Linked DNA regions of Homo sapiens: region 1 is linked to region 2. The links come from fine-mapping of genetic effects on gene expression. A gene starts in region 2. The other region holds a variant in brackets. All regions are shown on one strand. Distances are between the middles of the regions. Region 1 overlaps SCYL2 (SCY1 like pseudokinase 2). Region 2 holds the start of SCYL2 (SCY1 like pseudokinase 2).

Region 1 (8,000 bases), 57 kb before region 2:
AGAAGCTTATCAGAACCAGGTTCAATTCTTATTGTGCAGCAGTAAGGTTACAGAATGGCCTTCTATTCTGAAACATCTAAATATATATTTCAGAAATCATACTCAAGGCATCTATTTCAAAGGGTATAGTATAGGTACAGTCAAAATATAAGTCCTACACCTTTATTCACTTCTTCAGCAAATCAAACTCAACATGTTTGAAATTTAATAACTGAATTCAATTCCACAAAATCCTTCCCTATTGTCTCACCTATTTACTCAATCTTCAAGACCCCACTTGTTACATCTATCCACAAAGCCTTCATTTGGTAAACTGAGTACATTTCCGCCTCATTCTCTGAATGCTTTTGAGTTCTAAGTGTTTTGTATATAATCCAAAGCTTTGTGAAATACCATCCCCCATTATTCTGTTAATGTGCACATGACTTATATACCCAAAGAGTAACTTTATTGGGCACCTACTAAATGCTTATTTGCTGAGCACTATGCTTGTTACTTTCCCTTTGTTTCAGTGAAGTCTCACAAGAATCCTAAAATGACGTTAGTCTCATCCTCATTGGATAAATAAACTTTTCAAAGTCACCTCAAGAACTGACAGAGCCAGGATTAGAGCCAGGGCTCAAATTTCTACTATGCCAAACTCCTGCTCAAAAAGACTTTTTTTTTAAGACAGGGTCTTGCCCTGTTGCTCATGCTGGAATGCAGTGACACGATCATGGGTCCCTGCAGCCTCAACCTCCCTGGTTCATGTGATTCTCCCACCTCAGACTCCCAAGTAGCTGGGACTACAGGCGCATGCTACCACACCTGGCTAATTATTGTATTTCTAGTAGAGATGGGGTTTTGCCATGTTGCTCAGGCTGGTCCTGAACTCCTGGGCTCAAGTGATCTACCCACCTTGGCCTCCCAAAGTGCTGGGAATACAGGTGTCAGCCACTGCATCCAGCCAAGAAGACAAACTTCTTTCTGCACAAAAGATTCATGCGATATCCCTAGAGTACCTTCCATGTCTATAGAGGTCCACAATAAATACTTGCTAACCATTCCCACAAATATTTACTGAGCAGTTTCTGCAGGCCAAGCACTACATTAGGTGTTAAGAATACATGGATGAATAATATAATTTTTCTTAAAAATTAACAAAGAACCAGGCGGTAATCCCAGCACTTTGGGAGGCCGAGGCAGGTGGATCACAAGGTCAGGAGTTCAAGACCAGCCTGGCCAAGATGATGAAACCCTGTCTCTACAAAAAATACAAAAAAATTAGCCATGCGTGGTGGCAGGTGCCTGTAATCCCAGCTACTCAGGAGGCTGAGGCAGAGAATTGCTTGAACTCGGGAGGCGGAGGTTGCAGTGAGCTGAGATGGCACCGCTGCACTCCATCCTGGGTGACAGAATGAGACTCCATCTCAAAAAAAAAAAAAATTAGCAAACAACCTTAAATTAAATAAAAAATGAACCTGTTAAATGTTTTTGTGACTCTATAGCTATGCCTATTTTATTAGTGCAGCAGACCCCTGGCATTTTCAGATTGGACTTCTATAACTTTAACTATATATAAATGATTTCAGAGTTTCTTAGTAATTTGTAATTATGCTGAGAGAACAGAATGTCCTATAAGGTTAACATGCTTCATCAGCATATCACTTAGCCACAAAATATACTAATTAAGACTTAAACATATTAGAAAACCAGCTCCTATCACTTACCACTTATATGATCTTGAATCACTTATTTTACCTCTCTGAGCCTCAGTTTCCTTATAAAATAGAAACAATAGTACCTATTTAATTGAATTTGGGGAAGAATAAAATAACATAACGCAGAGAAAATACTTTGCCTCTTACAAATTGAGTATCAAATAAACCTCAGATATTACTACTAAGACCAGTATCAGCATTTCCAGTAGCTTTGTTTGCCTCTCTCACTTTGTACCATTTTATGGGGAAAACTACATGCTATCATGATATTCGTAAAGCTAGAATTCTTAAATATCTTATTCCTTTATAAATGTCAAGATTCTACTGCTTTTGCTAAACTTAAAGAGAAAAGTTATATTATGGTATTTATCACATCATTCTTCAATTATGAAATGCTATATACACGAAAGGAGAGTATAATTGTTTTATAGATTGGAAAATTTATTTGCATGATAAAATAGCATCAAATGACATTAAATTTTCAGCTACCTAAAATTCCCATGAGGACCGCAGGTTCCTTGGATGGAATTTGTTGTAAGAAGGGTAGGATATCATCAAGTACAAACCACTTATCCAAGTATTCCAAAATCTTTCCTAAGCACACTAATGAATTTACACGAACCTATTAAAAGAGGTAAATTGCATTAGTCATTAAAAGTTTTCAAAATCTAGAACAAAATATTTAAGTGTAAACTTAATCTTCATATAAATATGTTAAAGTCTCAAGAATAAATGTAGATTTAGAAGCTCTCATCCTTTATCAACATAGGAAATTCACTTATTTACTAATTTTCCTGGCTTGTTTCACAAAGAATTTATGATTGCTTCACCAGGTCACTAGTGAGCTAAAGTCAAGGAATGACTACAATCTTGTAGCATTTTAAAGTGATTAGAATTTGAGAAACTTTTACTACATTATGTGTTACTATCATAAGAACACTCCTTTGGGGACATTTGAATAATAAAAAGGACTACATTCTTTGCACCAAGTGATCATTTTCACCCACATTCCAGTATTTTACTCTAACTTGGGTTCAATTCATTTTTAAACTAAATATTTTAACATGTGAAGGTATCCATATATGTGTTTTCTATTTCCAAATATACAGTTATTAAGACCTCTTATTTAGAAGCTTTTATCAAAATTCCATATGCACTTGACTATTTGATAAATACATCATACCCTACTTCTATTTGGAATTTCTTAAGATAGAATATCTTTAAGTCAGGACTATAGTATTAATAAAACTCCAGTTTTCAAAAAACAGTAAACCAACAAAGGCAGAAAATAATTTTGTTGGCTAATAAAGCACCATAGTTCTACAGGAAAAATGGGGAAAAATTTCCATTTCTAAAAAACAATGTACAATTGTTTTCTGAAATTAAAACACAAGAGATATTATAAATTCAAAAAGGTATCTGAACGCTTAACTTGTACTCATAATTCGTTTTATAAAAGGAACAGCTGCATTCTACTGAGATATATATATATTTTAAGCAAAACCGAGAATACTAATTTTATTTACTTTTAGGATATATAAAATATTAGTCATGTAAGTAATGAATAAATATAGCTCTTGGAGGATTTTACCTAACTCTGTGTAGAATTTTTAAAAATTTTATTTTCAGGGAAGAGTATTAAGACACAATACTAACTCACGACTCAGGAATTTCCTAGTCAGAATTTTAAACTTTTAGAGATAGAGGACTATGAATACAATTTGGGAATTCCTATTTGCCACTCTGAAGGTAGGCAGAAGCACTGAAAGTACTATCTAAAATCCACTTAAAAGGTGACATATAAAATGTAAATCCATTCCTAGTTACTGTTCTAAATATAAATACATTCATTATAACTTCTTGTAAACAACATGCCTTAACGGCCAGTTGGCATCTTAAAAAGAAACATACATATAACTGGGCAGCAATTCACATCATTTAAGTATCCATGTTTCCCATTTCTACATACCCCTACATATGCTCAGAACTGAACTAGAACAGGTACTCGCTTTGCTTTGGTTTTGGATTTTTTTTGGGCGGGGTGGGGAGCGGCGGGGGCTTGCTCTGTCACCTAGACTGGAAGGAGCAGCACAATCACAACTCACTGCAGCCTCGA[C/A]CTCTTGGTCTCAAGTGATGCTCCCACCATGCCACCACATCCAGCTAAATTTTTTTATTTTTAGTAGAGACGAGGTCTCGCTGTGTTGCTCATGCTCGTCTTGAACTCAGTGCTCGAGATCCACTCGCCTCAGCCTCCCAAAGTGTTGGGATTAAAGGTGTGAGCCACCATGCCCGGCCTACAACATGTACTTTGAGAAAATGTATGTTAATATAAATTTATGCTGCCATAAAATAAGGTACATAGTATGATTGTAAGATCTTTAAAAGGGCATTTTGAAAACTAAATTTTAAGCTGTATATTACTACCATCTATTTTAAAAATTCAATTGTAAAATTGAGAATTTTAGAGAAAACAGCTACTTTTAATGATAGTGAAGACTCAGAGAGGCACAGTGACTTTTCAAGGTCACAGGGGTTGTTAGTAACAAAGTGAGAATAAGAACTAAAACTTGACTTTATTTCATTTCATACTTGTTTGTTTCAGTAATGATTTCTTTTTCTACTTTGGTGTTACATTTTCCATTTCAAAGCCTTTCAACCAAGAAATGAACTAAAATAGATTCAATGGCTATAAGATAAAATCATATCATTCAAATTACTTTTGCTTATAATTTTATTAAGCTGTTTATTTTTATTTAAATTCACATTCCACCAGATAAAGACGGGATCTCCAGAGAACTAGTTTTACAAAATGCAAATTTAATAATATGTCCGTTATCAAAAATCAATATCAAGAACTGGTCAGGCAAAAGAGAACATTTCTCCCTCTTTAAAGCTGCTATTTTGAAGACAGCATTCAATATTACTTCTATAAAGAAATATAAATGTGATAAACTATTATATTTAGTGTTAGAGAAAAGGCTGGGGACATTTATTGCTTTCAATATGAGATAATGAAAACTTTGTTATTAATTCTACCTTCCTTGACTAACAAGTAACTGAATGTTAAAATTTTGTATTCAAAGAAGGTAACTATTTCCTTGGTCTACATTTTTTAGCACAACTATTTATCCTACTTGTATTCACATTAATTTATTGCTTTCTTGTACTCTACTTTTTTAAGAAGTGGGCAAGTCAGTGAGAAATAAGACATTTAGAGACCAATAACTAAAAATAAAGGCTATTTATAAAAGGAAACTTTTCAACAAGTTTTTACGCTTAGATACCAAGTTAAACTCTCATAATATTTTTAAACTAACAACAAAATAAATTCAGTTAAAGCAGAAAAGGATTAAGAAAAAAATAATCACCCAACTTTTTTACTGAAGCACTCAAAGTAAAGGGACAGCAAGTAAGGTTAGGAATGCAATATTATAAATTATGTATCAAAGAAAACTACAGCTCATTTTTATAGTACTATATACAAGTTATCTACAGCCAAGATGAAATACATCAACAATCTATAAAAGGGTTATTAAACAATAAGAAAATGATTTAAAGCACTGACAAGTGAAAAGAAAAACAAAAATTAATATGCAATTACTTACCGCAAGGGAAGATGTTTGTAGACAAGCATTTTTAATTCTTGGTATCAAAGCGTTTTTCATGGATGGGTAGTCTATAAGATTTGCAAAGGTTGGAATGATGTTTAGACAGAGCTCCTATAAAGAAAATAAACTGAATCAATATTAGGGAAAGACTCATCTTTTCTCTCTGATATTACAAAGTTTTGCATTTGCATGGCTAAACTGTCATATAGTTTGAAACAAATTTTCATATATATTATTTGGTCCTTTCAACAACTCTTTGAAAAATGAATGGTTATAATCACTTTTCAGTCTTACAGATGAGAAAAAAAGCTCAGAAGACATTACTCAAAGTCATACTAGGTCATAATAACTAGTGTATGACATCCAAACTCCCTGATCTCATTCCTAATCTCTTTCTTTGATAACACAAGTCCTCGTTTATCTTTAAATAACAACACATAAGTTTTGCTATCTCTCAGAAGAAGGGAAAATCAAGTATGAAATCATGTAAAAATACTCCTCTCAAGTAATTCTCTTAGCTGTTACATATATCCATATGATAACATACAACAGTTTTTTAAAACAACATACCGAAAGGAGTGTTTAATTTTTTTTTTTTTTTTTTTCTTGAGACAGGACCTTGCTCTGTCACCCAGGCTGGAGTGCAGTGACGCAATCATAGCTCACTGCAGCATCAACCTCCCAGTCTTGTGGGATCCTCTGGCCTCAGCCTCCTGAGTAGCTGGGACTACAGGTACACGCCATCATGCCCAGCTAATTTTTTTTTTTTTTTTTTGAGACGGAGTTTTGCTCTTGTTGCCCAGGCTGGAGTGTAGTGACATGACCTTGGCTCACAGAATCCTCCGCCTCCCGGGTTCAAGCAATTCTCCTGCCTCAGCCTATCCAGTAGTTGGGATTACAGGCACATGCCAACACACCCAGCTAATATTTTGTATTTTTAGTAGAGATGGGGTTTCACCATACTGGCCAGGCTGGTCTCAAACTCCTGACCTCAGGTGATCCACCTACCTTGGCCCATGCCCAGCTAATTTTTCAATTTTTTGTAAAGACAAGGTCTCACTATGTTTCCCAGGCTGGTCTCGAATTCCTGAGCTCAAGCAATCCTCTCACCTTGGCCTCTCAAAGTGCTAAGATTATAGGCATGAACCACTGAGACCAGCCTTAAAAGAGTGTTTAATAATTTTTAGAAGAAAATTGAGGACAGAGTATTACATAATCCCAATTCTTTTTTTTTTAGTTTTCTTTTTTTTTTTTTTTTTTTTTGAGACGGAGTCTCGCTCTGTCGCCCAGGCTGGAGTGCAGTGGCGCGATCTCGGCTCACTGCAAGCTCCGCCTCCCGGGTTCACGCCATTCTCCTGCCTCAGCCTCCCGCGTAGCTGGGACTACAGGCGCCCGCCACCACGCCCGGCTAATTTTTTGTATTTTTTAGTAGAGACGGGGTTTCACTGTGTTAGCCAGGATGGTCTCGATCTCCTGACCTCGTGATCTGCCCGCCTCGGCCTCCCAAAGTGCTGGGATTACAGGCGTGAGCCACCGCGCCCGGCCCTTTTTTTAGTTTTCTTGGGTTTTTTTTTCTTTTTTTTTTTTTTTTGGAGAGTCTTGCTCTGTCACCCAGGGTGGAGTGCAGTGGCAAATTCATAGCTCACTGTAGCATCCTGGGCTCAAGTGATCCTCCTCCCCAACTCAGCCTCCCAAGTAGCTGGCACTACAGGCATGCACTGCCATGCCTGGTTAATTTTATCATCTTTTATTTTTGGTACAGACAGGGTCTTACTATGTTGCCCAGGCAGGTCTCAAACTCCTGGCTTCAAGAGATCCTCCCACCTCAGTCTTCCAAAGTGCTCAAATTACAGGTGTGAGCTACCGCACCTAATCCCAAGTTCTAAAATGTGTAGGTACCTGTGTCTATCCATAGGTTTAGGAAAAAAGACTAGAAGGATATATATGAAAATGTTAACCATCGTCATCTGTGAGAGCGAATTTTAATTTCTTTTTTTTGTTATTTGTAAGTACTTCCAAATTCTGAAACTTAAAGCAAGCATAACTCAGAAATGGGGGAAAAAAAGATTTAAAACATTCTTGTTAACTAATGTGGTGCCATAGTAGAAATGATAACTGGCAAATTCTGGGAATAACAGGAAAACAGAGGGATGACTGGGGGCTAGGGAACTAAATGAGAAAATGAAAAGAAGAAATGGCTTGAGAACTAACTGGCTAAAGTACACACATCTCAGGCAGTTTATGAGAGATGATCCTTGTAGCAAAGCATAAGAGAAGGGATCACTGAGGAAAACGGAAGCACAAATGTGAATTAGGAAGGATACTACTGAAAATACTGGCAAACTTCAAGACATCCATTTATAGTTAGAAGACAGAAATAAATTAACTACTAAGAATCTGTTATCAGAACACTGGATATATTTTATTTGCTTTAACTTATTCTTAGGCTTCCAAAAGGCAAATGTAAGAGAGTTAATTGTTTGTATCCACTCAGAACTATTAATAATTAAGTGATTGATAAAATTTAAAAATGAGCCAGGCATGGTGGTGTATGTTCCTGTGGTCCCTGCTACTATGGAGGCTGAGGGAGGATCACTTGAGCCTGAGAGAGCGTGGGAGGTCAAGGCCACAGTGAGCTAAGATTGTGCCACTGCACTCAAGCCTGGGCCACTGCACTCAAGCCTGGGCAACA
Region 2 (16,065 bases):
GAATGCAATGTTAATTCAACTTTTAAAAATGAATCCATGTAATTCACATTAACTGAATAATGAAAAAAAGCAAGATAATCTCAGTAGAGGCAGAAAAAAAACTGACAAAATTCAATACCAATTCATAATAAAAACTCTTAGGAAACTAAGAACAGGAAGGAACTTCCTCAACCTGATAAATAGCATCTTTGAATAATTACAGCTAACATTATATTTAAAGATAAAATACTAACCACTTTTCTCCCTAAGTTTCAGAACAAGGTAAGTATACCCACTTTTACCACTTCTATTCAATATTCCAGTAAAGGTCCTAACCAAGGCAATAAAGCAAGAAAATGAAATAAAAGGCATTCGGACTGCAAAGAAAGAATACAATTTATTCCCAAATGACACAACTGCATACACAGAACATCAGAAGGAATCAATCTACAAAATAGCTATCAGAATGAATACATGAGTTTGGCAATATAGTAGAATACAAGAACAACATATTTGAAAAGATTGTATTTCTAGGCTGGGCATAGTAATTCATGCCTGTAATCCCAGCACCTTGGGAGGCTGAAGTGGAAGGATTGCTTGAGTACAGGAGTTTGAGATCAGCCTGGGTAACATATCAAGACTCCAAAAAGTTTTTAAAAATTAGCCAGGAGCAGTAGCACATGTCTGCAGTCCCAGCTACTCAGTAGGCTGAGGTGGAAGGATCACTTGAACCTGGGAGGTTGAGGACGCAGTGAGCTGTGATCACACTAATGCACTCCAGCCTGGGTGACAGGGTGAGACCCTGTCTCAAAAAAAAGAAAAAAAAAAGAAATTGCATTTCTATGTATTTCTACTAGAAAATTTAAAATTTAAAAATACTGTTTCAAGGGTATGAAATACCTATGAATAAATTTAACAAGCTATGCAAGATCTATACAATGAAAACAAAATACTGCTAACAGAAACTGAAGAAAACCTAAATAAATGGAACGATATATACTGTGATCATGAATTGGAAGATTCAATATGGTTAATGTGTCAGTTATCCCCAATAATCTAGAAACTCAATGCAATTCAACCAGAATCCCAGCAGGCTTTCTGTAGAAAGTGACAAACTGATTCTAGAATATTACTGTGAGAAGGGATCCACAGGCTTTACTAAATTGTCAAAAGGGTCTATGGCACAAACCAAGGTTTTAAAGCCCTATCGCTCTCCAAATTGTCAACTTCCAGGTGTACTCTTTCCTAAAATTGATTTGCCTGAGAACAAGTCTATGTCCTGAAGATTTTCCTTAACCACTTCTTTGTTCACAATTTTTTCCCACTTGACTAAAACAAAGTATTTCTCTCAGCCATCCCAGTGTTACTGTAGGCCATTTTCCTAGGTGTAAAAAAATTTTGTGGGAGGAGGGGGATGCAATCTGTAGATTTAATTCTATGAGAAAGCCACTTAAGAGTAAAGCACAAGGAAGTTTGATAAGAAATACTAAAGGAGGCTGTACCTTGCTTCTTTCAGGACAGATGTTAATAACAACAAGAACCCACGCCTTATCTACCACAGAACTACAGTTAAGAAGATGGTTGTCACAGAGATATATAGGAACACATTTATTTCAATTGATAAACTCCAAGGTTTTGATAAAGTAAAGCACTATCACAATATACGACAATTTAGAAATTAGATCTTTTGCAACTATTTAAACTCTTGACAAAAAAACTCCAGCTGTGATCAACTTAAAAAATGTGCAAGAGGAGCACATGTTATTCAAAATTATTGGATACACAAGCAAAAATATTTGAAGACCACTGATCTCAGGTAGTTTGTATCCTGTTTTCTCTATTAACGAAATTATACTTATGTAAATATAACCCACTTTCTTCTATTAAAGATTTGAACTGTCTGTAAATGGAAATGGAGACTGACTTTCCCTTTTTAATTTAATGCTGCATTTTTGTAAGCAGCTAGAAAATGTTGCTACTGGCATTATGAAAACATTTACTGGCTATGCCAAGTTGTTCTCTATGAACATCTGCTGTTGATTTTGACGGGAAGGTGAAAGGATACAAAATTCTATTTAAAACCATACATATCTATTCCTCTAACGCTGCCTGACAAGCTATATATTAAATGCCGTGCATCTTGTTATACACTGAGAATACAGAGGTTCTTCTTTTTAGGGACTCCGTCCAATAGCAGACTCAGTCCTCCAAAGAGTTACAGCAATTAACTTGTGGTAAGAATGTACATGCTATGGAAATATTAAGATGGGCTCAAAACTATAAAGTAAGGGGGGAAGGAGTATTCCAGAAGGGATTATAATACCACGTGCCAAGATATGTAAGGGAGGAAGACTATGGTGTGGTCTGCAAACTACAGTTACATATGAAAACAAAGCATATTTTCAGAATTGATATTCAAATTTGAGATGCTATCCATCATCCAGAGTCAACACTGATGTACGTATGGCAAAGAACAGGCATGGAAATTCATTTGGTGGTTTAATATTTACTGAGTATCCACTATGTATCTGATACCATATGAGAAACTGGGAAGGAAGTAAATGAAAAATAAGCTATGAAAAATCTTACATCAAAGGGAGAAGACAGACAAGTAAAACCACCACAGCACTAGCCTACAGAGTGATAAAACGCTACAGAATATACATGCACAGTGTTATAGGAACAAAAAGAAGAGGAATAGAATGTTTCCCAAAAACAGTAATGCTAGAGGAGTAAACTGGATAGAGAATAGGAGAATTGTAGGAGTAAAATCACAAAGCAAAAACCAAGTTCAGTTAAAAGCTGAAGAAAAAGAAGAAAGTATGGCAAAGGAGGCTAAAAAGCCAGATCACCAAGGACATTGAGTAGTAAGAAATCAAGCTATGGAAGCCACAGAAGGGTTTCAGGCATCAGTAAGATGATCAATCACTCTATCAAGCAGAGTGAAAGATATACTAAAGGTGGAGGCTGAGAATATGGCAAGACTGAAGAGAACTTCAATATGCAATTCAGGGATATTTATAATTCAGAATATATAAAAGCAAGAAAATAAAGGAAATATGGTCAAGGAAGATAGAGAAGAGATGGTGGGTAAAGGAGGTATTTCAAAGGTGCTAGTTATACAGATATTTATTTTGTATTTACATGTTAAACTACGTTATATACTTTTATGTGTTATATTTCACATTTTAAACAAATTTTTAAAGGGAGAAGCGTTGCTGAATTACAAAAATAGCAGTGAGAAAGGAGAAGAAAGGAAAAATTAAGAAACAAGTTAAAACCAAGAGAAGAAAAGAACGAAACTAAGAATCCTACCCCACCCCCAATTTCACAGTCTAGGTGGAAGGTGAAGCCATTTACCAACGACATATAGAAGCCAGTTGTTTTATAGGGGAAGAACTCAACTTGGACATGTAGAATTTGAGCTGCCTGAATGACACTCAGATGGAGATATCTAATAGGTTTTTAGACATGCAGGCCAAAAACTTAGAAAAAACCGTCCAGACTGAAAGTAAAAATTGGTGCACGATGAGCCAGTATGGTAGACTATGGCCTTGAAAAATATCACCCAAGAATACCATGAAAATTACAGAAGGCCAAGGACAGAGTAATCTCCAAGGAGCCTGTAAAATAAGACCTGAACTTAAACGAGATTTTGAATTATTAGCATAGCCATTTGACATATAAGAAACCTAAGAGTCCAAATACCTTTTCTTAAAATGATAGCTTTTCATTTTTCCTTTGATTAATGAAGAAAAAAGCCTATATTTTCCAATGACAAAGTTATAAATGATGGAAATTCTTAGTCATGTAAGGCATTTCTCATTGTACACCATTTATTATAATTCACTTGAAATTCAATCATCTGCCCTTCCTAAATTTCAGCCAAAATAGGATTTGGGGTAGCTTCAGTATGATTCCAAGACTGTGTATCTCTCTACCATCTAGCTCAGCCATCACCTGGCTTTCAATAGAACCAGCATGTGAATCTGTTGTAATACTAGATTTTACGTGCACCTGGCAGAAAGTAGGATGAGTATTACAGCATCTGACAGCAGGTAGCTGAAAGGAACTGGCAATTCTTTCAGTCCTGCCTGCTCATGAATTCTAGATACAGCAAGAAATGTAACAGGTAAAATTATATTTATGCTTAACAAAGACTTCCTGAATTTTCAAATAACATGACTACAAACAGTCCTATACTTCCCCAAGAATATATTTTTACTTTTTTCCCCAGCTTCCCAAGCTTACAATCCCAAGAATAAAATATTATAAAGCAGAATGAGCTTCCATTTTTGTTGAAGTCACTGCAATGCAAATAAAAGGCTTACCGTAATTACATCTGGCAATGAAGTTACATTTAATAACTTTCAGTCTCATGGCACCTAGCAGAGACTAGACTTTCAAAAAGCACAAAATAATAGACACTGACTACAAAGAACAACAATATAAAACAAAGAAACTCAAAATAGTTTGCTTTATCCCTTAAAGGGGCACAAAGGTCTGAGATTTGTATGTAAATGCCTGAAAATAAGAGAATACCATTTATATCATCATTTATAGTTATTCAATGAATTTTTGTAATTCTAATTAAGAATTACATTCAAGAATTACATTCAGAAGACATGAAATACGGTTAAATACTTCACAAAATCTGGGGGAAAATACGTGTGCTTATACTCCCATATGCAGTACTTACCTGTTTGTATCTAAAGAAAGATGATCTTAAGATATATTCTCTCTCTCTTTTTTTTTTTTTTTTTTTTTTGCTGCTCTGCAAGGAGCAGGGCTAACTTTAAGGCCAGAGTTGGCCTTAAGATGTATTCTTGAAATATACATTTCTGCTTGTGGGAGCACTCAGAGATTACTAGAAGTTTTTTAAAAGAAAGTTTTCAAAAACTGGATAATGCTCTTCTTTGTTCTATACAGAAATCATGTTTAATCTTATACAGAACAAAGATTAAACCAGCTGAGTATAATCATTCTCTTTACAATTACAAAGAGTATCTAATTATCAGACATAGTTAAGCCAGAACAGATTACAGAAGACAAGCCTGATTTTAAAAACGAACATAAAAAACTGAAAAGACTTAGCAATGTACAGCCAAGTTAGTACACAAATTATTGGGTACCTACTAGATGAAAAGCACCATGCTAAATGCAGGGGGAGAAACAAGAAGTAAAACATTCAGTTTCTGTCACTGGTCACAAATTTTAAGACCACTGTACAATAAGATTTAAGATTTAAAAAGCAACATGAGGCCAGTGGCTCATGCCTGTAATCCTAGCACTTTGGGAGGCCAAGGCAGGAGGATCACTTGAGCTCAGGAGTTCGAGACCAGCCTGGGCAACATAGTGAGACCCTGTCTCTATGTAAATAAAAATATTAAAAAAAAAAAAAAAAAGAAAGCAACATGAAATTTCAGGCAACATACGCTTAAATATCAAATTAGTAATTTAAACAATAAGTAAGATCTGAGGAAAGATTACATCCAAGTTTTTTGAAGCTACTTCCAGCCCATGTATTTAGTGAACTATAGTTTTTACAACAAGAAGTTAATCAGATTCTTGAAATTATTGTAATTTTTTTTTAAAGCAGTAGCAGAGGGGTGACAGTTTCTCACTATTCAGGCCTTCCAGCTAGAGAAGAGGGACAAGGAATAACTGAGTAGGAAATTAGATTAAATGATCACTTCCTTAAAGTCTACAGTTCTTCCTTAATTTAAGAAAGTATAAAATCTCGGCCAGGCGCGGTGGCTCACGCCTTTAATCCCAGCACTTTGGGAAGCCGAGGCGGGTGGATCACGAGGGTCAGGAGATCGAGACCCTCCTGCCTAACACGGTGAAACGCCGTCTCTACTAAAAATACAAAAAATTAGCCAGGCCTGGTGGTGGGCGCCTGTAGTCCCAGCTACTCGGGAGGCTGAGGCAGGAGAATGGCGTGAACCTGGGAGGCGGAGCTTGCAGTGAGCCGAGATCGCGCCACGGCACTCCAGCCTGGGTGACAGAGTGACACTCCGTCTCACAAAAAAAAAAAAAAAGTATAAAATCTCAAATACAATGTATGAAAACAAACTCATAAAACACAAGTACTGTCTAAGACAGTGGTTTTCAAATTCTGGTGAACATCTAAATAACCTGGATAACTTCTTAAACCACATAGATGCCTAGGTAGTATCTCAAACCTTTGGAATCGGAACCTATAAAGGTGAAGTATATCTGTATCCTGAGAAAGCTCCGTAAGTGATTCTGATGAACAGCAAAGTGTTAAAATTAAGTTACATGGTTAAGTACACACTCTTCAGTGGTAAGGAAATCTGAGTTCAAATGCCAATTCTAATATTTACTAGAGCCATCACCAACTAACTACCCACCCTAACACTATTTCTAATCTACAAAAAGGGGAAAAGCTAGCTATACCTCAAGTGATTGTTATAAGGATTAACAGTGATGATAAGATAAAATGTTTAGTACAATTCTTGGCCCATTCAGTAAGCATTAAATGAATTCATTCATTTAATAAACATTCAGCACTTACACATCAGGAGATGAGGAACATCTAATTAATTTATTAAGTATTAATAAACATGACAACTCTTCAATGGTGTGGTAAGAACATATAATCAGGAGAATGTATTCTAATCAGGAAAGTCTTCCCTGAAGTGAGCTGAATGATGAATAGGCATAATTGGCTAAAAAAAGAAAGGAAGGGCATTTCCAAGCAGAGGAAGTAGCATAACCAAAGCCACATACTTGAAGCAGGAGAACAGAAAAGACAGGGTGACTAGGGGAGAAAGGGAATGTCAGAAAGCACAGTGGAGATGAGTTTGGAAAGGGGACCGACTATGCAGGGCTTGTAGGGCATGTTAATGTGTTCGATTTACTTAAAAATGGTGAGAAGCCACTGAAAGATTTTAAACACTAAGACAATGTTATTAGGTCTGCATTTTGAAAAAGTCACTAAGTCTTGTTTGGAAAACTACAGGAGACCACAGTAGATGCAAGCAGACCATAATCAGGAGGCTACGGAAGTAGTCAGGATGAGAGATGGTGGTGGCTTGGAACAGGACTACTGTTACAGACGAAGAGCAGACAAGAGTCAAGAGATATTCAAGAGGCAAAATCAACAGGACTTCATGAGAGGCTGAGTATGAAGCACGACAGAGGAATTGTCAAACTTCAACTTCTATACAAAGGAATGGATAGTGATGCTACCCACGGAGTTAAACACAGTAAGAGGAGCTATTTTTCTTCTTGGGGTGGGGGAAGGGAGGTATATCATGAATTTCAAACATGTGAATATGAGTAGTTATTCCCAGTAACAGGGTTGATCTGTCTAGAAAGTATTCCACAGTATAGAAGTACAATGTGCCTGTATTTATTTTACTGGGTATTTATGAATCTTAGAGACAAAATAGGTTTCTGCATGTGAGTAATGTAAATCTAAAGAGAATGAAGGCCCTTACCTTCCATTAGGTTCCCTTCCTTTACACAATCCCCCAAAAGCATTCTTTATGATTACAGTTTAATGTTGCCTCAAGAAGTAATTTATATACTCAGCTGATTTCATTTTTAAATATTTTAAAAATATTTGTGCTAAAGAATAAGACAGCAAACCAAACAACAACAAACCTGCAAAGTCCAAAAGGAATCTTCAAGCACCTGACTTTCAAGCCATCACCAGAACATAATGGGGTTTTACAGTGGCAGGCTGATTTGGAGCATTTTTGCTAAACTATTTATTTTTCAGAACGGAGATAGGCTACTTAGAAAACTCACTCATAGTATCCAATGTTTTTAGAAAGTGTCATCACAAATAATTCCTGAGTTTGACGTACTAAAAAATAGTTGACACCTTCCAATGAAGTCACTACAGGCATAGCGCTTTTAAGCAGCTTGTCTGGAGCCTCCTCGAGTGCCTTAGAGGGTGGATTTGATAATATGGCCTCCTTAATTACGGATCACAGGTATGTGCTCAAAGTCCAATAAGTTTTTGCAAGCTTTATCGGTCTAAACCCTCCTCCATCCGTATTCTCCCGTTTAGAAAAACAAGACTGCAGGAGTAACCGTGGGGTTTTTTCTCTTAACAAAACCCCTGCCCCACCCACCTCACACACAATAACCTTCCATTCCAGAACTAAAGCTACTGTCAGAGAAGGACGGCGGGCGGCAGGGCCCTGGCTGGTGACCCAGGCTACCGGATTCCGGACCTCAGAACTGAGGTGAACTCTCTCACCCGGTCCTAGAGTAGTGTCCAATGTCCCCGAAAGGTACTACGTTCTCCACCACCGAAACCCGAGCTCTCGAGCCGGCATGGGGGGCTCTCCCTCCGGCAGCTGACTTCGATCCCGGGTCTCCCGTCGCCTCAAGGCCTCTTTCGAGGACTCGGCCCTCTCGGATCCGCTCCCCGGAGCTCGCTGCTCGTCCAGCCCCGCTTTGCGCGGGCGCCGACCGCCGATCGCCCGGCCGGCCGCCGGCAGGCCCGTCACCAGGCAACACCCACCAGCCTGAGCGGCCCTGGGAGGCCTAACCCGGGCGCGAGTCCTCCATTCCCTCCTCGCCGGCTCCGGGAGCCCAGGCGAGAGAGCCGCCGGTGAGGGAGGTCGGTCGGTGCCGGCGGCCGGTCACTTACCTCTTCCTTCTTCCAGGAGGGGCGGTGCTGGGGCTCTTTCCCCCCGCCCCCCTAATAAACGCCTCCTGGCTGTTCCTGCTCTGCCTTCGTGCCTGGCCACTGACTCTGGCTTTACTCCATATCCTCCGCCGCCCCCGCGGCCGCAAACGTCGGAGCTAGAAGGAAAGGGGTGGGGAGGGGAGGGACCGGGGACGAAGAGTAAGGGAGGGGGAAAAAGACTAAAAGACCTGCCGGCCGGGGGCATGACGTCACTTCCTGCCGGTTCGGAAGAGGCGGAGCCAGTACTTCTCTCCGCCCCGGGTGTCAGGTGGGGCGGGGCTATGGTGCCAGGGGAGGAGCCAGCGCGCGAGCTTATGGCGGTTCTTTTGACTCCGAGGTTCCGTAGACTTGTCAGTCAGAACGAGCTTCCGGGCCCAGGGCTGAACGGGCCAAGTTCCAGGAACCGTAGAGATGGCTTCTGCCGGAAAAGGAGGACAGGTAGCCCTGTATATCCTAGCCAAATGTGCAGTGAAGGTGGAGGGGGCAGCTGAAGGGAGCAGGCGGCTGGGACTCTGCTCCTCATTGGTCCAGGGCCCCGCCCATTTCCTAGCCCCGCCCCCTTCCTGCCCTACCAGGCACTGGACTGGGGGACCCAGGACTGAGGCTTTTTAGGGGTTACTGTGGTGAAGTGCCCTTGGAGCGTGCAGGAAAGCGTTTTTTCTCAAACTTTAATATACATACGAATCCCTAGGATCTTGTGAAAGTGCAAATTCTGATTGAGGAGTAGGGTCTGATAATCTGCGTTTCTAATACATGTCCAGATGGCACCAATGCTGCTGGTCCCTAGGCTACACTTACAGCAACAAGGGGTTAATGTACTAGAGGGCAAATTCCTTGAGCTAGAGGAGTTATTTCTTTAATCTAGCCTACTTGTTTAATGAAGGTTAGAGAGGTAGACTGTCTATGGAAAACAGGCTGTACCGCTGTATTTTCCACCTACCCCGTCGAGTACCCTCCTGCCCACCTCCGCCCATCACTTTCTGGCCTCCCCTCCTCAGTCTCCGCTCTGCCCACAATGTCTGGGGATAAGATTTCTTGAGTGATTAGACGGGTAACTTCTGTTACAGAAGGAATTTGAGGGTGGTGGATTTTTATTTCTGTCATTTTATCGTAAACATATGTATAGTTGGGCATACTTTTGCGGTTATGCATAGTTGGAGAAGAGAGCTTAAGTTCTTGGATTCTACCCACTTCCCCCTGCAAATCTAGAAAAAACATTCTAGAAGTTCTAAGTTATTCCCTTATCATTCTTTAATTTTTTTAATTAATTTTAATTAAATTTAATTTTAATTAAAATTTTACTGGGGTACGGAAGAATGAAGAATGACTGCGAACTATAGGTTTCTTTGTGGAATGATGCAATGGTCTGAAATTAGATAATAGTGATGGCTGCACAACTTTGTGAATGTACTAGAAACACTGAATTGTACACTTTAAAAGGGTACATCCTCTTTCATCAGCCACCATTACAATCCTTCTTCCCCAAGGTTACTCGTTTGAAGTTTATTCTTCCAGATCTTTCTATTTATTTACATACATTTTTACATAGGTTGGGAATTCATTTTTACCTAAGTAGGATAATAATATACAAGTTGTTCTGCTCAGCTCATTTTTAAAAAATTTTTGTTTTGGGTTTTTCTTTTTCCCTACTTAATGAGATCCTTGCACACTATAAACATAGCTCTACTTCATTCTTTCTAATGGCTGGCTACTATTCTATAGTAAGGGTATACCATAATTTATTTAACTGTTTTTTTCAGGTAATAGACTGTTTTTTTTCCCTTGCCCAGGCTGGAGTGCAATGGCGTGATCTCGGCTCACCGCAACCTCCACCTCCTGGTTCTAGCAATTCTCCTGCCTCAGCTTCCCAAGTAGCTGGGATTACAGGCGTGCGACACCATGCCCAGCTAAATTTTTTTGTGTTGTATTTTTGGTAGAGATGGGGTTTCACTATGTTGGCCAGTGTGGTCTTGAACTCCTGACCTCCACCTGCCTCAGCCTCCCAAAGTGCTGGGATTACAGGCTTAAGCCACTGCGCCTGGCCAACTGTTTTTGTTTCTAATTGAGACAGGGTCTCACTCTGTTGCCCTGACTGGAGTGCAGTGGCAGGGTCACAGCTCACTGCAGCCTCGGCCTCCCTGGCTCAAGTGATCCTCCCACCTCAGCCTCCTGAGCAGCTGGGACTATAGGAGCACGCCACCATGCCCCACTAATTTTTTGTATTTTTTATAGAGTCTCCCTGTGTTGCCCAAGCTAGTCTTGAAATCCTGAGTTCATGCGATCCTTCTGCTTCAGCCTCCCAAAGTGCTGGGATTACAGGCATGAGCCACTGAACCTGGCCAGTAATAGACATTTTGATTGTTTTTAGGTTTTCATTATTTCTCAGCAATTTTTTTTTCTTTTTGCCCAGAGAAGTGGGATTTCTGTTATTTGGAGAGTAAGTTCAGCATGTGATAAGGCAATTTTTTTTCATTATGCAATATGTCCATGTAAAATAAGGCACATCTTTATCTAAACCCCTTAATCGGGAGCAACAGTGGAAGCACTTTCTAGAGCCCAATATCTCTACAATGTTTGGTAGTTTCACTTCATAATTTAGATAATTGGGTTATATTCAAGTATTCAGCTCAAGTGGGTATGTGACCCTCTTTCATTTTTCAGCAAACTTTTTTTTTTTTTGAGACAGAGTCTTGCTCTGTCACCAAGGCTGGAGTGCAGTGGCGCGATTTCAGCTCACTGCAACCTCCATCTCCTGGGTTGAAGAGATTCTCCTGCCTCAGCCTCCCGAGTAACTGGGATTACAGGCGCATGCCACCACGCTCGGCTAATTTTTGTATTTTTAGTAGAGGTGGAGTCTCGTCATGTTGGCCAGGCTGGTCTCAAACTCCTGACCTCAGGTGATCTGCCTGCCTCGGCTTCTGAAAATGCTGGGATTACAGGTATGAGCCACTGTGCCTGGCCTTAGCAAACTTTTTAAACAGCTGGTTTAAACAATTAAAAAAATTGATTATTTAGTTCTTTGCCTTGATCTCCCTAATGAAGAACTAACCATTGTTCAAAAGGGCAAAAAGAAAAAAGAAAAGGCAAAGAGTTTGGTGAAGCCACAACTCTGTAATAATCAATACTCAAGTGTATTTGCATTACTTTTAAATATGCCCTAAAATAACATTCTTGAAGATTCGGTATAACTAGTAGTTAACCATGTAATAAGGGTATATAAATTCATATAATAATGTATTTCACATCAGTAAAGCAAGTTCCCAGGTTTACTCTGTTTTTATTGGCAGACCCACATGGTGCAACTTAGTAAATATACTATAGTTTATGTAAGATGTGAGATGACACGTAAGAAGGACATTACCAGCAGATATGCCTTCAACAAGCATAAGGTTGTCAAAACTGAAAAATTTGCATATTTTTGTATAATCTAGATTTGTTAGAAATGCATATTTAATTTTTTTCAGGATGCTCTGGTCCTTTTCAAGCTACTCAGCTATGGGATGGTATTATTCACTCTCTTCAGGCCCAAGTGGAAATAAAAAGAAGGAGGCATCATTTACAGACATACAAAGACTGTTTCACTGGTTCTGATGCTGTCGATGTGGTCTTAAGTCATCTTATGCAAAACACGTGCCTAAGTAGCAATGACATCTCTTGTCTTAAAGGGGTTCATCTTTGCCAAGTTCTAATGAATCACAAAGTATTTGAACCAGTAGGAATGAAGAAGCTTTTCAAAAAAGAAAAGGAATTAGAATTTGAAGATTCCAACATTAGTCTCTACAGGTTTCTAGGCAATAAATCATCTTACGATTGTTGCAAAAGACAAAAGGATGCTGAGAATGAGTTCAATGAAACCTTGAGGTTAGTGTTACCTAAGATACTGTAATATATTTTATTTAGACCCTAGAAGAACTGTCTTTATTGAGCTAAACTCGAATGTGTACTTTTTTCAGAAGCCAATTAAAAAAAAAAATCCATGTGAAAATTAATCCACTTATGCATTTCCTCTAAAACTGGAATGATGCAATAGACTAGAATTAGATAATAGTGATGGCTGCACAACTTTGTGAATGTACTAGAAAACACTGAGTTATACACTTTAAAAGGGTGACTTTTGGCCAGGTAGGGTGGCCCACGCTGAGGCAAGACGGACAGATCACTTGAGATCAGGAGTTCGAAACCAGCCTGGCCATTATAGCAAAACCTCGTTTCTACTAAAAATACAAAAATTAGCGGGATGTGGTGGCAGGTGCCTGTATTCCTAGCTACTCAAGAGGCTGAGTGAGGCACAAGAATCGCTTGAGCTGGGGAGGTGGAGGTTGCAGTTAGCCAAGATTGTGCCACTGTACTCCAGCCAGGGCGACACAGCAAGAATCTGTCTCAAAAAAAAGTGAATTTTATGGGATGTGAATTATATCTCAGTAGTTTTTACTGTTTCCAATATAGCAGCATCTGTTGCTGTAACCAAAAATATATATTATTCCTTTTCCTTTACAACATTTTGTTTTCCTTAGAGCAAATACAGTTTTGTTTTCTGTTTTGCTTAGTTGTTGAAGACATTATCACATAAATTTTTCAGAGTTTATACCAGGAAAAACTATGTCTTCTAAGGAATGGATATGCTTTCTAATTTGAAAAATGACTTAGCCAGTGTACTAAAAGCCAAGGTTTTCTGGAAACTCAGAACAAAAATTTTCTATTCCATCATAACAACTATGTTAACCTTAGAATTAGCATATATGCTTTTCTTCTTTATTTAGAATTCTAATTTGTCCTCTTTTGGTGATAGTCTATTAAATGAATTATTTGCATCTTTTATTATAAGCTGCCTGAAATCGTTTTTGGAAATAGAGAATGTATGAATAAATTTTAATACATTAATTTAAATATATATTTGAAATTTTGGTTCTGTGTATAATGAAAAGAGCCACGTATTATTTTTTAACAGACCAGGATATGAAATGATTTCAAATCCTCTAGCACAGGAGATTGGTGAGGAAAGAATTGAGGAACTTATTCATACAATAAATGGGAATCCAGCTTTATGTCCAAATATCACAGTTCAGAAACCTTTTCTCCGGCTTTCAAAAGAAGGTAATTTGTTTTCATTATTTTTTCAGAACATGGTAAGGAAGAACTAACTTCTTTTTAACAGGTTCTTATAAGCAGTTTCAAGGTCACGGCAAAATAGAGCAGAAAGTACAGTTCCCACATACCCCTTGCTTCCACTCACACACAACCTTCCCCATTATCAACATCCTGCAACCAAGTGGTGCATTTGTGATAATCAATGAATCTACATTGATACATCATTTTCACCCAAAGCCCATAGTTTACATTAAGGCTCAGCCTTGGTGTTGTACATTCTATGGGTTTGTACAAATTTTTGATGACATATTATCTGTCATTATAGTATCATACAGAATAGTTTCAGTGCCCTAAAAATTCTCTGTGCTTTACCTACTCATTCCTCCCTTCTCTCTAACCTTAGGCAACCACTAATATTTTTACTGTTTCCAAGAACTGACGTTTTAAATGTGATTTAAGTAGTGTATTAGTGTGTTGACTCCCTCCTTCTCTTCCCTGTAGGAGTTTCCTTCTACACAGCAATTACATCAGATAAGACAGGTGAGGCAATATACATCTAATAACACTTAATTCATTTTTTACAATGACTGTGACCAGATTAACTGGAGGTGCTATAGTCTGCACTGCAAGAGAAAACATACGGACTCACCACAGTCCTTAGTATTTGTCCTGCAAGACCATCTTCTTAATGAGTGTATCCTTTGTCCATTGTGTAAACTCCTCCCAAACATCTTCCTACTCTTTCCCTTTCTCAGAACAAACTAGCTAAACTACCTGTTGCACCACTCCTCTTTACTATTTACTTCATCTACTTGTGTTTTTCTCCTTAAAATGCCACTAATGGCAGATAAAAGAGCACCATAGCCAGGGCAGTTAGGAGAGATACATACAAAATTCATTAATGGCCCTTTACTCCATTTGGTCAAACCATGACAGAAGCAAGACTAGCTATGACTTGCACACTGGAGGACTGTGATTTATCAACAATAGTTAACATTGGCATGATAAAGGAAATACAGGGTGCCCAAAGAAAGGGTGTAGAATTGAGAAGAAGAACTAAAAGAGAACTCTTTTTTTTTTTTTTTTTTTGAGACGGAGTCTCGCTCTGTTGCCCAGGCTGGAGTGCACTGTTGTGATCTTGGCTCACTCCAACCTCTGCCTCCCAGGTTCAAGTGATTCTCCTGCCTCAGCCTCCAGAGTAGCTGGGACTATAGGCGCCCGCCACCACACCCGGCTAATTTTTGTATTTTTTAGTAGACACGGGTTTCACCATGTTGGCCAGGTTGGTCTCGAACTCCTGACCTCAAGTGATCCACCCACCTTGGCCTCCCAAAGTGCTGGGATTACAGGCGTGAGCCTCCTTGGCTGGCCATTGAGACACAGTTTCACTCTTTCGCCCAGGCAGAAGTGCAGTGGTGTGATCTCAGCTCACTGTAAACTCTGCCTCCCAGGTTCAAGCAAGTCTTGTGCCTCAGCCTCCAGAGTAGTTGGAACTATAGGCGTGTGCCACCATGCCTGGCTAATTTTTTATTTATTTATTTATTTTTTGTATTATTAGTAGAGATGAGGTTTTGCCATATTGGCCAAGCTGGTCTTGAACTCCTGACCTCAAGTTATCCACCCGCCTTGGCCTCCCAAAGTGCTGGGATTATAGGTGTGAGCCACCATGCCTGGCCGTAAGAGAACTCTGATGAAGACTAATATTTAAAGGGCAAGCAGGAGAGTCCCCCAGAAGTACAGTTTTTATCTAGTACAAATGAAAAAATAACTTTTCCCATTATTTTTTCTTGAGGTCATGACGTACCTCTAGAAATTTCAAACTAAAAGTGGATATGATTTATCAGTAAAGGCCAGGGCACGGTGGCTCACGCCTGTAATCCCAGCACTTTGGGAGGCCAAGGTGGGTGGATCACTTGAGGTCAGGAGTTCAAGACCAGCCTGGCCAACATGATGAAACCCCATCTCTACTAAAAATACAAAGATTAGCCAGGTGTCGTGGTGCGTGCCTATAATCCTAGCTACTCTGGAGGCTGAGGCATGAGAATCACTTGAACCCGGGAGGCAAAGGTTGCAGTAAATGGAGATCGCGCCTTTGCACTGCAGCCTGGGCAACAAGAGCGAAACTCTGTCTCAAAAAAAAAAAATTCTATAGGTAATAATAAGAATAATTTCCACTTATTTTGGACCTTTCTCTGTGCTAAGCAATTTGTTATGCATTTTATATTTATCCATGATTTTACAGTAGCCTGTAAAGTGAAGGGTAAAACTTGCATTTTATAGTTAGGGAAACAGAATCAGAAGGATCACATTAAAAAAAAAAAAAAGAC

The links.
Region 1: its variant is fine-mapped to the expression of SCYL2 in whole blood (INTERVAL, PIP above 0.99).

What each region holds. Positions count from the first base shown.
Region 1 is chr12:100,320,944-100,328,943 of GRCh38, reverse strand. SCYL2 (SCY1 like pseudokinase 2) reads right to left here. Exons shown (of 18, transcript NM_017988.6): 11 at 5,306-5,419; 12 at 2,190-2,322. Among named protein-coding and RNA genes, the nearest start is that of SLC17A8, 32 kb to the left of the region's middle. The variant C/A (reference allele first, on the strand shown) is at 3,817.
Region 2 is chr12:100,259,943-100,276,007 of GRCh38, reverse strand. SCYL2 (SCY1 like pseudokinase 2) reads right to left here and starts at 8,831. Exons shown (of 18, transcript NM_017988.6): 1 at 8,216-8,831. It overlaps DEPDC4 (DEP domain containing 4), which reads left to right and starts at 8,929. Exons shown (of 10, transcript NM_001364818.2): 1 at 8,929-9,088; 2 at 12,115-12,511; 3 at 13,599-13,744. The coding sequence starts at 8,932. RefSeq lists enhancers at 8,197-8,256, 8,267-8,336, 9,007-9,086 and silencers at 8,407-8,486, 8,587-8,636.